Linked DNA regions of Homo sapiens: regions 2, 3 and 4 are each reported to be linked to region 1. Evidence: microRNA targets listed by miRTarBase, many of them from high-throughput screens and not tested one by one. Region 1 holds a microRNA gene; each other region holds the end of a gene's coding sequence.
What was found. The annotated mature microRNA hsa-miR-651-5p reads UUUAGGAUAAGCUUGACUUUUG and lies in region 1 at 1,984-2,005, opposite strand. An mRNA with a match to its seed (bases 2 to 7 or 8) in the 3' UTR can be bound and repressed. Matches are read on the target gene's strand: a 7mer-m8 pairs with bases 2 to 8, a 7mer-A1 pairs with bases 2 to 7 and ends in A, and an 8mer does both.

Region 1 (3,184 bases):
ATTATTTCCTTCTCAGTGGCAAAATAAACTTCTAAATTGATTGAGACCTGTCTCAGATACCTTTTGGTTTATACTATCTTGCAGAACTCTTAAGGCAAATGGAAATAGCGTATGTAAAATCCTTTGCAGAATTCCTGACATATAACAGGAACTTAATAAATACTAAATATTGGTAGATATTGGTATGCTTTTTCTAACGTCAAAGAAGGTTTATAGCAGCTATAACTAAATAAAGAAGATTGAAGGCAGCCTTAGCTCTAAAATAAAGTCCCTCTCCCAAGGGAATTTAGGGTCTCTCAGGAGAGATTAGATAAGGACATTCATGAAAACAATCCAGAGCCGTATGGATATGATTGGAATAAAGGGCTTGAAGAAAGAGTTGTATGTAATCTTAGGATGCAGACTTCACTTCTGGCTGGTGCAATCAATGAATGAATGCTTTGTGGAGGATGGAGCATTTGAGCAGGGCCATGAAGAAAGGTTGCTATAGACAGAGGTATCAGGTACTTGCAACTAGAAGGAAAAGAACCAGTACCAGAAAGTGGAAACTATAATGTATTTAAAAAACAATGCAAGACAGTGACTGGTTGGGGATTCCAGTTGATGTAAGGCCATGTCTGGGAAAGAATGCACAGGACAGTATTGTGTCCTCAAAGACCAGCTAAGGGCCGGGCACAGTGGCTAACACCTGTAATCCCAGCACTTTGGGAGGCCGAGGCAGAAAGATCACTTGAGATCAGGAGTTTGAGACCAGCCTGGCCAACATGGTGAAATCCTGTCTCTACTAAAAATACAAAAATTAGTTGGGCATGGTGGCACACACCTATAGTCCTGTGGTCCCAGCTACTCGAGAGGCTGAGGCAGAAGATCACTTGAACCCGGGAGGCGGAGGTTGCAGTGAGCCGAGATTGTGCCACTGCACTCCAGAATGGGCAACAGAGCGAGATCCTTTCTTAAAAAAAAAAAAAAGGAAAAAAAATTGGCTAAGAATTTAGGACTTTCTTAAGGAGATAAAGGGAAGATATTTAAGACTCTCATAGAACACAATTTAGACGGCTAAAAAGCTAAAGATGAATGCAATGTATCATAGCATCATCTTACATGAGTAGGTCTTGGGGCTTGGTTTGGTTTGTTTTGCATTTCACAGTCCTTTACCAGAGAGTTGCAGGTTGTTATCAACATTTTCTGCAGACTTTTGGAGATAAACTGTTTTATCTTAGAGTGATTCCTCCTGATACAATATAATGAGAGGAATACAAACCCCTTTATAGAAAAGGCACACATTTCAGCATACAGCCTAGGTAAAAAGTAAGGGTTAACTGGCTTAGTTGAGATTAATTATATAGATGTTTATTTCCCAGTTGTTATGTGTCTGTAACATAAAAGTGGTTATTGACTAAAAGTAGATGTGCTTCATTAATATCAGTGTGAGGAGAAGAGCAACAGGGAAATGCAGGCACCCATGCCGTGTGGGCTGGAATCTGGAAGACGTGGCCCCTGGCCAGGTATGCGCTGATGACAGGTGACATTCACCTTGCAATCTGCCATAAAATGGGAATCATAATACCTGCTCAGTCCTCCAGATGAAATATTGACTGGAAGTCATATATAAAATCGTCAAGCAAAATGCACAATAAAATTAAAATTGCTACTTTTCAAGACATAGGAAGTGTATTAATTGTTTTTTCCTGCTTCTTTTCTGTCAGGATCAACGTTGAATAAAGTTTTGTCAAACACATCTCACTTGATGCATCTCATATCACTTAAAAAATAACATTGGGAAAGTCTTTCCTTTCACTTTATTCATCCTGACTCTTCTTTGCTAAATATTCTGTATACAAATTTCCACATAACATTATGTTTAGAGTTGTACTATCCACACAAAATGGTTCATATATGGATCTCTTGAAGGTTGCATGTCAGAAACACATTAAACTGTCATTGCCTTTTAGGATACACTTTCCTTTTGCATTTTTATTTGAACAAAAGTCAAGCTTATCCTAAAAAGCAGTGATAGATTTCTGTAGATCTAGGGAATTGTTAATACATTTTGTTATCTGTATCATACATTTGTACACAGCTGCTGAGTAATTCAACTGTTTAGAGTTGAACTAATGTTTTTGAACAATAAGTCAAATTCCACGATTTAATCTACATCACAAGAATTTCACTTCCATGGCATTATGGAAAAATGCGCAATCTGTTGTCAAGGTTGAATTTCATTTCTGCTTTCACAAATAAATTATGCCTGTCATTTCCATTAGACACAGTCCTTACCTAGATCGTTACAAAACATCTTTGAGAAGCTTAGGGCATCTCCTATGTTCCACTTCAGATAGAGATATAATTTACTGAGGGGTTAGAAAGAATGGTCAATAAAGCTGACAAAATATTTTAGCATTTGGAAAAAAATTTAAATGCCTTAGTGCAATAATTCCTGGGGAAACTATGGTCGCTAAAATGACTATAATTCTTATTCATGTTCATTCCCGGTTTAGGGGCCTTCCTTAAAGAAACTAATTTCAGAATTTATTTAAGTCATAATAAAGGGTCTTAAAACCACCTGATTTCCTGAAGTTTTCTTTACCACTCTGATTTCCTGGTGCCTTCCTCTCTTCCCTGTGTCTAGGTGGAGAGTGGGAGGTGCACATATGAGGTAATGATGTGTGTGATGATGTAATGACGTGTCTGATTATGCAATGATGTGTTTGGTGATGAAATGATGAATGTAATGATGCATGAGAGGCTCTTGTTGATTGCAGATGATAAGAATAAAAGACTTAGCTCACTACTTCTGGCAGGGTCTGGTAAGAAGGCATTACCACCCTATGCATTCCAACAGAAGGAATCTATTGAAAATGAATCATTTAGAAAGGGGCAGGAGATCCAGAAGAAGGTAGAAAGGGAAGGTAAGATGGCCAAGAGATTAAGAACTGCAGAAAGCTCCTACCACTTCTGTGCTGAAGGAGTGAAAGAGAAAATGGTTTCACCAAGAGCCCGTAATCCCCCACCACTGAGGCTCTGAGAGTATTCATGGCAGCCTTAGAACCAAGACCACCACCTTGCAGGAATGCAGGAGCCCAGGGCCCTGATGCTGTCTCAGGACTCTGGGAGCCTGAAGCTGCCAGCCCGTCACCACCATGGCTTGAGCCAGAGCCTGCACCTGCCGTGCCCCACAGGCTGC
Region 2 (3,184 bases), not on the chromosome of region 1:
ATAATCAATGCTGGAATTACTATGATATGTGAAATGGTTTGCTGAAAAGTCTATGTACTAAAGTGGAAATAATCTTGAAGTTCTTAATATGCCTTGTTTTCTGTTTCTGCAGAGTGTCTATAAATGTGATTTCCTGAACTTACAGCTTCAGCAACCACTCCAGCTTGCACAGGATGCTATAGATGCTTTTTTGAAGCAGCTGAAAAACCCTATTGATTCTCTTCCTGGAGAGCTTTTCCATGTGGTTGTTTTCTCTCTCCTTCTTTCTTATTTTCCATCTCCTTACCAGCGATGGATTTGCTGCAAGAAAGCCCATGAACTGTTAGTGTTAAATGGTTTATTACTAATCATCACACCTGATTCCTCCCATCAGAACCGTCATGCTATGATGATGAAAAGCTGGAAGATTGCTATAGAGTCCCTGGGCTTTAAACGCTTCAAGTACTCAAAATTTTCACATATGCATCTGATGGCATTTAGGAAAATCTCTCTAAAAACCACAAGTGACTTGGTTAGTAGGAACTACCCAGGAATGTTATATATTCCTCAAGATTTCAACAGTATAGAAGATGAGGAATATTCTAACCCTTCCTGCTATGTTCGATCAGATATAGAAGATGAACAACTAGCATATGGTTTCACAGAACTCCCTGATGCGCCATATGACTCAGATTCTGGAGAAAGTCAAGCCAGCTCTATTCCTTTCTATGAGCTAGAAGACCCCATATTACTTTTAAGTTAATATAGAAGCAAAAAGCCCCTTTCAGTCCAGGCTCCTAAACTAATTGCTTACACCAATTGGAAATACTAACATGAACTCAGTACTGAAAACCTGGTTTGCATAAAAGAAATGCAGAGGTTTACAGAGTTTGCTATTTTTTTCTACTTCTCAATTTTAAAATTTATTCTTATATAGAAAGCTTAAAGTTTCATGCAGAGTGACTCATGTCATAGCAGAAACTACTGTTACTTTAGCATTTAGCACTATCATAGAAAGGTACCTTTTTCTCTTTAGTGCTATTGTGAAAACAAGCATAATTTGCTATATGTTTTCCTTTTCAACTTTTCAGTGTTGACTATAAACCATTGAATGGAAAACTTTAAGATGTAGAAAGCTGTAGATTGCACTTTGATGACTCACAAGTTAAATGTGATACAGAAAAATAGATCGGTTAGTTGTTTTGTGATGCACTTATCTTTTTCTTTTTTCTAACTAAAATTGTGATGTTACAGAAAGTCATTTTATGTTCCTTTTTTGTCTGATGATCCAATATTTACTGAACTTTTTGTAATTGGTGATAATTCTTTTTATTTCTTCCTTATATTAAAAGCTCATTTGACAGCATCAGACATTGGGGGAGAGATGTCCCCCAAAGTGTGTATTCTAATTTTATTAGCCCTATCCAATAAACACCATTGCCAAAGTAGTATTTTCATAACTTTCTTGTTGATTTGGGCCTTGGTGTGAAGTATATTTACCTGAGAGTTCACTTTTACTTTTCTTAAACTTAGGCTTCATTTACAAAATGTTTTATTTAAGCAAGGAACAATGTAATACTCAATAATGACCTAAAACACCTTTTTGAAAGGGTTTGCACTTGGAAGAGAGTTTATGTTCTGTTGAAACCAACTTTGATAGGGTCCTCACCTTTCCGTTAAGGAGGTGCCGCACTACAAGTTTCAAATTATATGGAAAAACCTAAAATTAACCCTCTGTTGGTGATCTCATAAAATGGTTTTGACCTTTTGGTATCTTAATTTCTATCTAAACTTTATCAGAAAATTTTCTTTGAATATATCAATTAGTTGGCTGTGGGAATTTTCCCTTTCCACATTAATAAATGCCTTTCTGTGTTTCTGAATCAGAAGCAAATGATTAGGGAAAAATATATGTCCAAACAAGACAAGATTAGTTTAAACAGTTAAGAACATTTAGTCCACATTGTCTTGTCAGCCAGCAATTGTCATGGAAGCTATCATTTTTAAGAGTGCCACTGTGTGGATTTTTTTTTCAAGTGGTTATTACATTAAAATTACCTCATACTGAGGTTTTTGCACTGAAATATCACAGTTTCAGATTTCATGGTTAATGTTGTGCGTATGTTTGTATGTTTTTAAAGGAAACTTGCATTTTCAATAGTTGATCCTAAATTTCATAAACTGCACTTCTTTACTCTGGTAAAGCTGATGTTTTTGTGCTTATTGTGAATTGCCGTAGTACCTTTGAATGTCAAACTTTATTTAGAAATATAAAACTTATCCTTTATGATATAAATGGTTGAGTGTATGTACCCAGTATTTCTAATTAAATTTCACATGCTAAATTAATGAAAGTAACAAGATTGTAATTTTTTAAAGTCAGTTGATTAAATGCAATAAATATTGGTTGCTCAAATATGCCACAAATAACTCGAAATTTTTCATTTACTTTCAACAGCATAAGATTCTTTAATATTTAGGATTGACTGTTCTTTCCAGTTAAGCACTGAAGGATTATGTCTTGTAGCTTCCCCAAGAGAAGGGGAAGGAAAAAAAAGCACTATGTTAAGGATAATACAGAACTCTTTTGAACTATTTTGGTAGTACCTTTTACCATACTGTTTGCTTTTTGATTTGGGTAAATATCTTAAGAGCAAAGAAAACAATACACCAAATGAAAATGCTTTGAAAGTAAATGAAAACAGCGCTTTTGAAAGGCTGGTATAGTATGACCCTGGAGTCAGCCTTTGTGTTACAGCGAAAATGTTGGTGCTATAAATTCTGATTGTTTACAGATGTTGATTCTGCTTATGCTCCAAAGTGTGCATGATGTATTTTACGTAGTACTCTGAGGAAGTCTCTTTATAAAACCTACTACCACTTAGTATAAATTTGTTTGAATTTATATCATTTGTTACTGTAAATTCAGCTTATTCCAATTAGGTTGGCACAGATTTAAACTGATACACATTCCACAAAAACCAATTCAGTGTATAAGTATTGAAGTATAAGCAGTCATTGCAGCTTGATGCCAGATCATGTATGTAATAACAAGTGGAAGTTAATAGGGCCTTCTAATACTGTATGGGTACTCCTAAGAATTATTTCATTTTGGATATAAAGAAGTTATGAGGCCTCCTGTCACATTCACAGCTGGTTCTCCAAAATAATTTGGTTGTTTCAAAAACAAATGGTAATCATTTGG
Region 3 (3,184 bases), not on the chromosome of region 1:
CACAGTGAAACCCATCTCTACTAAAAATACAAAGAAATTAGCTGGGCGTAGTGGGCGCCTGTAGTCCCAGCTACTTGGGAGGCTGAGGCAGGAGAATGGCATGAGCCCGGGAGGTGGAGCTTGCAGTAAGCCAAGATAACTGTGTCTCAAAAAAAAAAAAAAAAGTTTCCTAAACTAAACTCATTTTAGGGTCATACCGTTCATGATGTTGGGAATTGAGCACCAGATATTGTCAGTTTTTTTAATCTGGAGACAGCTACAAGGAGGTGATTAAAAGAATGTGTAATTTAGTATTTTTAAGATGTTTAGAGTTTTAAAAACTTACGTTGTTGCTGTCATTGTATTTAAATAGTTATAAAGAATATAAACAATGATATAAGTAATTTTTTTTAAATTCTTCAGATATAATGAAGATCTGGAACTTGAAGATGCCATTCATACAGCCATCTTAACCCTAAAGGTTAGCTCAGTATTCAACAACTGGATTTATAATGATTTCATGATTAACTGCTTAGAAAATTGACCTTTTTTCCTCCCTCCTCAATAGGAAAGCTTTGAAGGGCAAATGACAGAGGATAACATAGAAGTTGGAATCTGCAATGAAGCTGGATTTAGGAGGCTTACTCCAACTGAAGTTAAGGATTACTTGGCTGCCATAGCATAACAATGAAGTGACTGAAAAATCCAGAATTTCAGATAATCTATCTACTTAAACATGTTTAAAGTATGTTTTGTTTTGCAGACTTTTTGCATACTTATTTCTACATGGTTTAAATCGACTGTTTTTAAAATGACACTTATAAATCCTAATAAACTGTTAAACCCACCTTCCAGCCTTTTAGGAGTTGCTAAAATTTTAACAGTTATTTCCTGCTTTTTATCACAGTTGATTTCTGAAGACTACATTGCCAAGCAGAATGATGAAATGACTTTTTCGTTGTCAGGCAATTTTGGTTAAGTCAAATCTTAATGCCCTCTTCGCTATCAGATGTTGCCTGTGTTTCCATAAAGCAAAATGCTGATTTTGGTAAAAAACATGACTGCTTCTAGAGCTGGGAGGATCTGCAGACTTTCACGGATTCATGGAACAAGAAAAGAAGCATAGGTACTTTTAGGTGCCATTAGGTATTGATCAGTGAAATCCTAGGGTGCTCTATGAGATTGTACTAGGCCTATGAAGAGTGGTAAGCCAAATAGGTCTCCATGGGAGATACATTATGTAAATAAATAAACAATGGTTTGCTGGTTCCTGTTGGTGTCTCCACAAGTAGGTAAACATGTTTAAAGGAACCCGGGTTCTTAGATTTTGTTAGACTTTTTAAACTCAAGGATGAGCATAAGTGCTTGAAATAAAATGCTAATACTTAAGTGTCAAAACTATGGCTTAAGGCTCTTGTTAATTCATTAATGTAATCTCAGTATAATAAATAGCTTCACTATAATGAAAGTTATAATTAAGTATCTGCACTCATATGAAGGCAGTGCTTAGGTTTTTTTTTTTAAATTTTTTTTAAGGCAACTTAGGATAAAATCATTAATTTGGTTTACAGAACATAAGGAGAGTTTATAAGCATAATCATTCTTACCAACGTGAAAGTATAGTGGGCAATTCCATGATTTAAATGGAGCTCAGAAGATTCTAAGATTTAGTTAAGGGCAAAAGAACCTTATTTTGGAGATTTTTCTCAGGGTCCCCAGTTCTGTTCCCTACCATCACTATAACACCCATATCTTGTTTTAGGTGGCAAAAGCATTAAGGAGATGAAAGATGGTAACTTTGGCTTCCTGTTTCAAGATGTTTATCTTGGCCTTGTCTAATAATCTCTCTTATGGGCTCTTGATATATTTTGACTTTGGCACACTAGAAAGCGGACATAGTAGCAAAAAGGTCTTTGAAGTCAAGTCTCAGCTATCTCACTTACTGGCTGAGTGACTATGTGAGGTAATTATCTCAGGGTTGGTTGGTTGGTTTGTTTTTTGAGACAATCTCTCTGTCACCCAGGGGGAGTGCAGTGGCGTGATCTTGGCTCACTGCAACCTCATCCTCCCAGGCTCAGGTGATCAATCCTTTTACCTCAGCCTCCCGAGTGGCTGGGACTACAGGCGCGTACCACCATGTTTGGTTTATTTTTGTATTTTTAGTAGAGACGGGGTTTCACCATGTTGCCCAGACTGGTCTCCAACTCCTCAGCTCAAGCGGTTCACCCGCCTTGGCCTCCCAAAGTGCTGAGATTATAGGCATGAGCCGCTCTGCCCGGCCATATCTCAGGGTTTCCTAAGGACTAAATTTGATAACACAAGTTAAAGCCTGGTGTGGTTAATAGTTACTCTGTTAACTGCCGTTGATTTTGTTTAGTCCTTCTATAATGTCCAGTATCAAAAGAGCAAAGCAATGTCAAAATTCTACAAATCAAAGAAGGGAAAATTAAAGGCATGTTAATATTTCAGAGGTAAGGAAAACTCATGTAGGTTTTTATTGTGTGCTAACAAAATTAGGCCTAAAGAATAAAGGGAGGAAAAATCAGCTGAACCAGATTTGATCCAGGTTCTGTTTTCCACCTCCTGCCCCCATTAAATGCAAAGCCCAGTTCCAGTTCAAGCTGCCTACAACACTTCTCCCTTTGTTCTGTTTATTCTTTCCACGGGCCTTAAAATTAAGTTGTTCCTTTTTGTCCCAGTTCTTAGAGTTCTTTGATGTAGCAACCCACTGCATTCCTAAACATTCCAAAACTCTTGAACCATTTCCAGCCTGTGGATTTTAGCTTAAGTATCATAATGTTTCTAATGTTCAGAGCCTCTGCCTTTTGGTTCATTTTGTATCTTCTAACCCTTAAAACATTTTAACTCCATTTGTTCTACTTCCTCCCAGTTCTACTGAACCATGAATTTAAATTTGCAAAGCAATTAATAGCAGTGAAACATGGAGATGCTTAAAATTCACATACACAGGCAATAAAGAATACTAATACAGAGCCTTATAATTATCAAGTGCTGATAACACTCAAGCATCCCTGAAGGAAAAAAAAAAAAACCCAACCTTGAGATAATTACCTTGCACAGTCTCTCAGGCATCAAGTAGGTGATAAGTGAACATTGAAGGGTTTTCATCTATTGCTCAGTTTTCTTCATAGAATGAAACTGCCAACTCTTAGTACTTACCTCACCTTTTTTTCAGGAGTCTACT
Region 4 (3,184 bases), not on the chromosome of region 1:
AGTGATTTTAACATGAACTGCCCATTCTGCAAAGAGGAAAAATATGTTGAATTAGTTAAATATCCAATTCAAAAGATGTTACAGTAAAATACATGTAAGACTTAACAAAAAAAAAAAAAAAGGACAGAGACACAATTTCTTATCCTCAATTCTCATCTCCAAAAAGCTATGAAAACCAGTTTATTTACAAAGCTTGGTGACAAAACCTGACCAAACTTGATCTGAGGCTCTTTATGATCTTTAGTTATACTTAGTGGGGATGTTCATAAATCACCACAAAAATAGGAGTATATTTGATAATGAGCTGCCATCCCAGACTTTTTTTTAGTAGTTTTGAGTGAAATATTTTACACAGATCCTATTAGTTTTTGAATAGCTCAAAAATTTTGATGCAAAACACAGCTAGACCTAAGTTTTCAAATAAAGGACTGCAAAGCAGTACTTCCCCAAACTGTTAATGATACAGTGATTCTACTAAATTCAAAGACAGTCCCAATAAATATTTTTGTCCCCTTGTATGTCATGAGGATAAATCTCCAGGGAAAAAAAGGGCATGTCAGAACGATGTGCAGGCTGTGTGAAAACTGACACATGATTTTATAAATGATGTAGCTGTAAGACACTGTGTCATTACCAGAAGTTATTCATCCATAAAGATAACATATTGTGTGGTTGCTAATAGTTATCTCCCTAAAACCGAAAAGTCCCATTCTTTTCAAGTGCTTAGATACAGTGCTTTAGGACATTCTTATGTAGTTCTAGTGCTTAGAATATTCTTTTTTTTTTTTTTTTTTTTTTTTTTTTTTTTTTTTTTTGAGATGGAGTCTAGATGGAGTCTCCCTCTGTTGCCCAGGCTGGAGTACAGTGGTGCAATCTTGGCTCACTGCAACCTCCACATCCCAGGTTCCAGCGATTCTCCTGCCTCAGCCTCCTGAGTGGCTGGGAATACAGGCACGCACCACCACACCTAATTTTTTGTATTTTTAGTAGAGACGGTGTTTCACCATGTTGGCCAGGCTGGTCTCGAACTCCTGACCTCAAGTGATCCACCCGCCTCGGCCTTCCAAAATGCTGGGATTACAGGCATGAGCCAGTGCGCCCGGCCCAGGATATTCTTATTCAGTGCTTCTCAATTTGGTTAAGCATTAGAATCTCCCAGAGAGCTTTGTAAAAATACCCATGCATGGGCCTCATTGTCCAACATTCTGACTAACTTGGTCTAGAAAGGGGCCCTGGCAACAATGTTTTAAAAACTCCTTACATGATGATTCAATGTACAGTCAGAGCTTTAAAAAGTCTCAATATCCAGGCTGTACCTTAGATCAGATAAATCAGAATTTTGCAGTGTGAAACCCAGACATCAGTACTTTTTTAAAAACATGCCCTGGTGGCTGGGCACAGTGGCTCACATCTTGTAATAGATCTTTGGGAGGCTGAGATGGGCAGATCACTTGAGGTCAGGAGTTCGAGACCAGCCTAGCCAACGTGGCGAAACCCTGTCTCTACTGAAAATACAAAAATTAGCCGGGCGTGATGGTGCACGCCTGTGATCCCAGCTACTTGGGAGGCTGAGGCATGAGAATCACGTGAACCCAGGAGGCGGAGCTGAGATCATGCCACTGTGCTGGAGTCCAGCCTGGGCCACAGTGTGAGACTCTGTCTCAAAAAACAAACACATAAACAAAAAAAGCAAACATGCCCTGGTGCTTCCAATGTATACCCAAAGTTTAACCCAATTGTTGCAACCCCCTGATCTAACTGGCTTAAAGGTTAAGGGTGTGATTGTTTTTTCTTCTGTCCTGAAGTAAGTCAGTTCTAGATCATCACCATAGTAGGGCCACCAATAAAGAATTCTAAGCATTATCCACTCTGGTGGTGGTGTATTCATAAATCCTTCCCCAGTTTCTTTAAAAAAGCAAAAGGGGCAGGAGGAAGAAGGTACAGAAATCACATGAGAAACATTTAAAAATACTTTTAGTAAAATACTCTGTACCCTGTCAAAACTCCTTTGGCACACAGTAAATCATAGTGAAGAACAAACATAGCAGAATTGCCTTAGTTGAGGCTACAGTGTAAGAGAGAATACAACTTAGAAGGTAATAATAGAAAAATCATAGCATTTTCCAGCAATTGATATGACAGTAAATTTATAAAGAAATACAATAATTTCCCAGTGACTCTTAACTGTTCAGGATGCCAGTGCTAAACCAGGTTGCCATACATAATTCAAAGAAAGCTAGAAAACACATTCCACATATTAAATTGAAGATAATTTTTGTTCAGAGAGCAACTGAAACATATAGTAAGTTATATATTTTTTAGATATAAGATAAAATTCTTTTGCTTTTAGTTAAAATGATTTTTTTCATACATTCTAATGGACATATGAAAAAGATATTTACTTTTTTTCATCACTAACCCTGAGGAAGGAAGAACAAATGTGGAGTAGGCCACAAAACTCACTAGGAACCAATCTCCACACTTTTCCCAATTGTGAATAGCAATTAATGGGAGAAGTTCAGGATACTACACTTGTTTAGGCTCCCATACACATCAGCTTAAACTATTTAAAATAGATACAACATTTGGGCAACTAGCACAGTGGCATTTCTCTGCTTCAACTGAGAACTATTTTAAATATCATCACTTTTATTTCCTACACTGGTTTAAACAAACAAAACAAAATAAGACAAAACTTGACATTGATTATGTAAGAACTTTCAGTTCAATATATAGTAATATGTAGGGACAATATAGCTTCATTGCTCAAGACTTCCATTCAGCAGGAAAAAAATGCATAAGTTCTAGGAATTCTTCTCTTTCACTAGAAAGACGCTAGCTATTACAGGGGAGTTGATGAGAGGAAAATGTGAAATCCCATCTCAATGGAATACAGGAGGAACTGGCATTTCCGCTTTGCCATTACAGTTATTATTCTTAGGATGAAAGTTGGAATTGCAAATTTAGCTGGACTCACCAGTTTCAACCTGTGGAAATGAAATAAAGTTCACCCCCTGGGCCAAAAACCCCAAGCAGCAGTTGGGAGCAAGAGGGCAATAAGAACAGAAGAAAACAGATTCACTGCGTTGTTATCAAGAATGGGTTTCCCTGCTATGTGCCTTGCCTTATTTGTTGGGCTGTTGACCACCATGCCAGTGCTTTCATCCAACCCTGGAATGGAAAA

Region 2: the mRNA of SAMTOR is a reported target of hsa-miR-651-5p. Seed matches in the 3' UTR shown: 7mer-A1 at 775-781 and 8mer at 2,144-2,151.
Region 3: the mRNA of PSMA2 is a reported target of hsa-miR-651-5p. Seed matches in the 3' UTR shown: 7mer-m8 at 804-810.
Region 4: miRTarBase lists TMEM19 as a target of hsa-miR-651-5p. Seed matches in the 3' UTR shown: 7mer-m8 at 2,938-2,944 and 7mer-A1 at 737-743.

What each region holds. Positions count from the first base shown.
Region 1 is chrX:8,125,801-8,128,984 of GRCh38, reverse strand. It overlaps MIR651 (microRNA 651), which reads right to left and starts at 2,020; the gene lies at 1,924-2,020. The region is part of intron 1 of LOC107985675 (a long non-coding RNA gene); the gene reads right to left.
Region 2 is chr7:112,819,302-112,822,485 of GRCh38, reverse strand. It overlaps SAMTOR (S-adenosylmethionine sensor upstream of mTORC1), which reads left to right. Exons shown (of 5, transcript NM_152556.3): 5 at 113-3,184. The coding sequence ends at 742. Among named protein-coding and RNA genes, the nearest start is that of TMEM168, 31 kb to the right of the region's middle.
Region 3 is chr7:42,915,054-42,918,237 of GRCh38, reverse strand. PSMA2 (proteasome 20S subunit alpha 2) reads left to right here. Exons shown (of 8, transcript NM_002787.5): 7 at 403-460; 8 at 548-1,377. The coding sequence ends at 664. Among named protein-coding and RNA genes, the nearest start is that of C7orf25, 4.6 kb to the right of the region's middle.
Region 4 is chr12:71,700,819-71,704,002 of GRCh38, reverse strand. It overlaps TMEM19 (transmembrane protein 19), which reads right to left. Exons shown (of 6, transcript NM_018279.4): 6 at 1-3,171. The coding sequence ends at 3,008. Among named protein-coding and RNA genes, the nearest start is that of TMEM19, 16 kb to the right of the region's middle.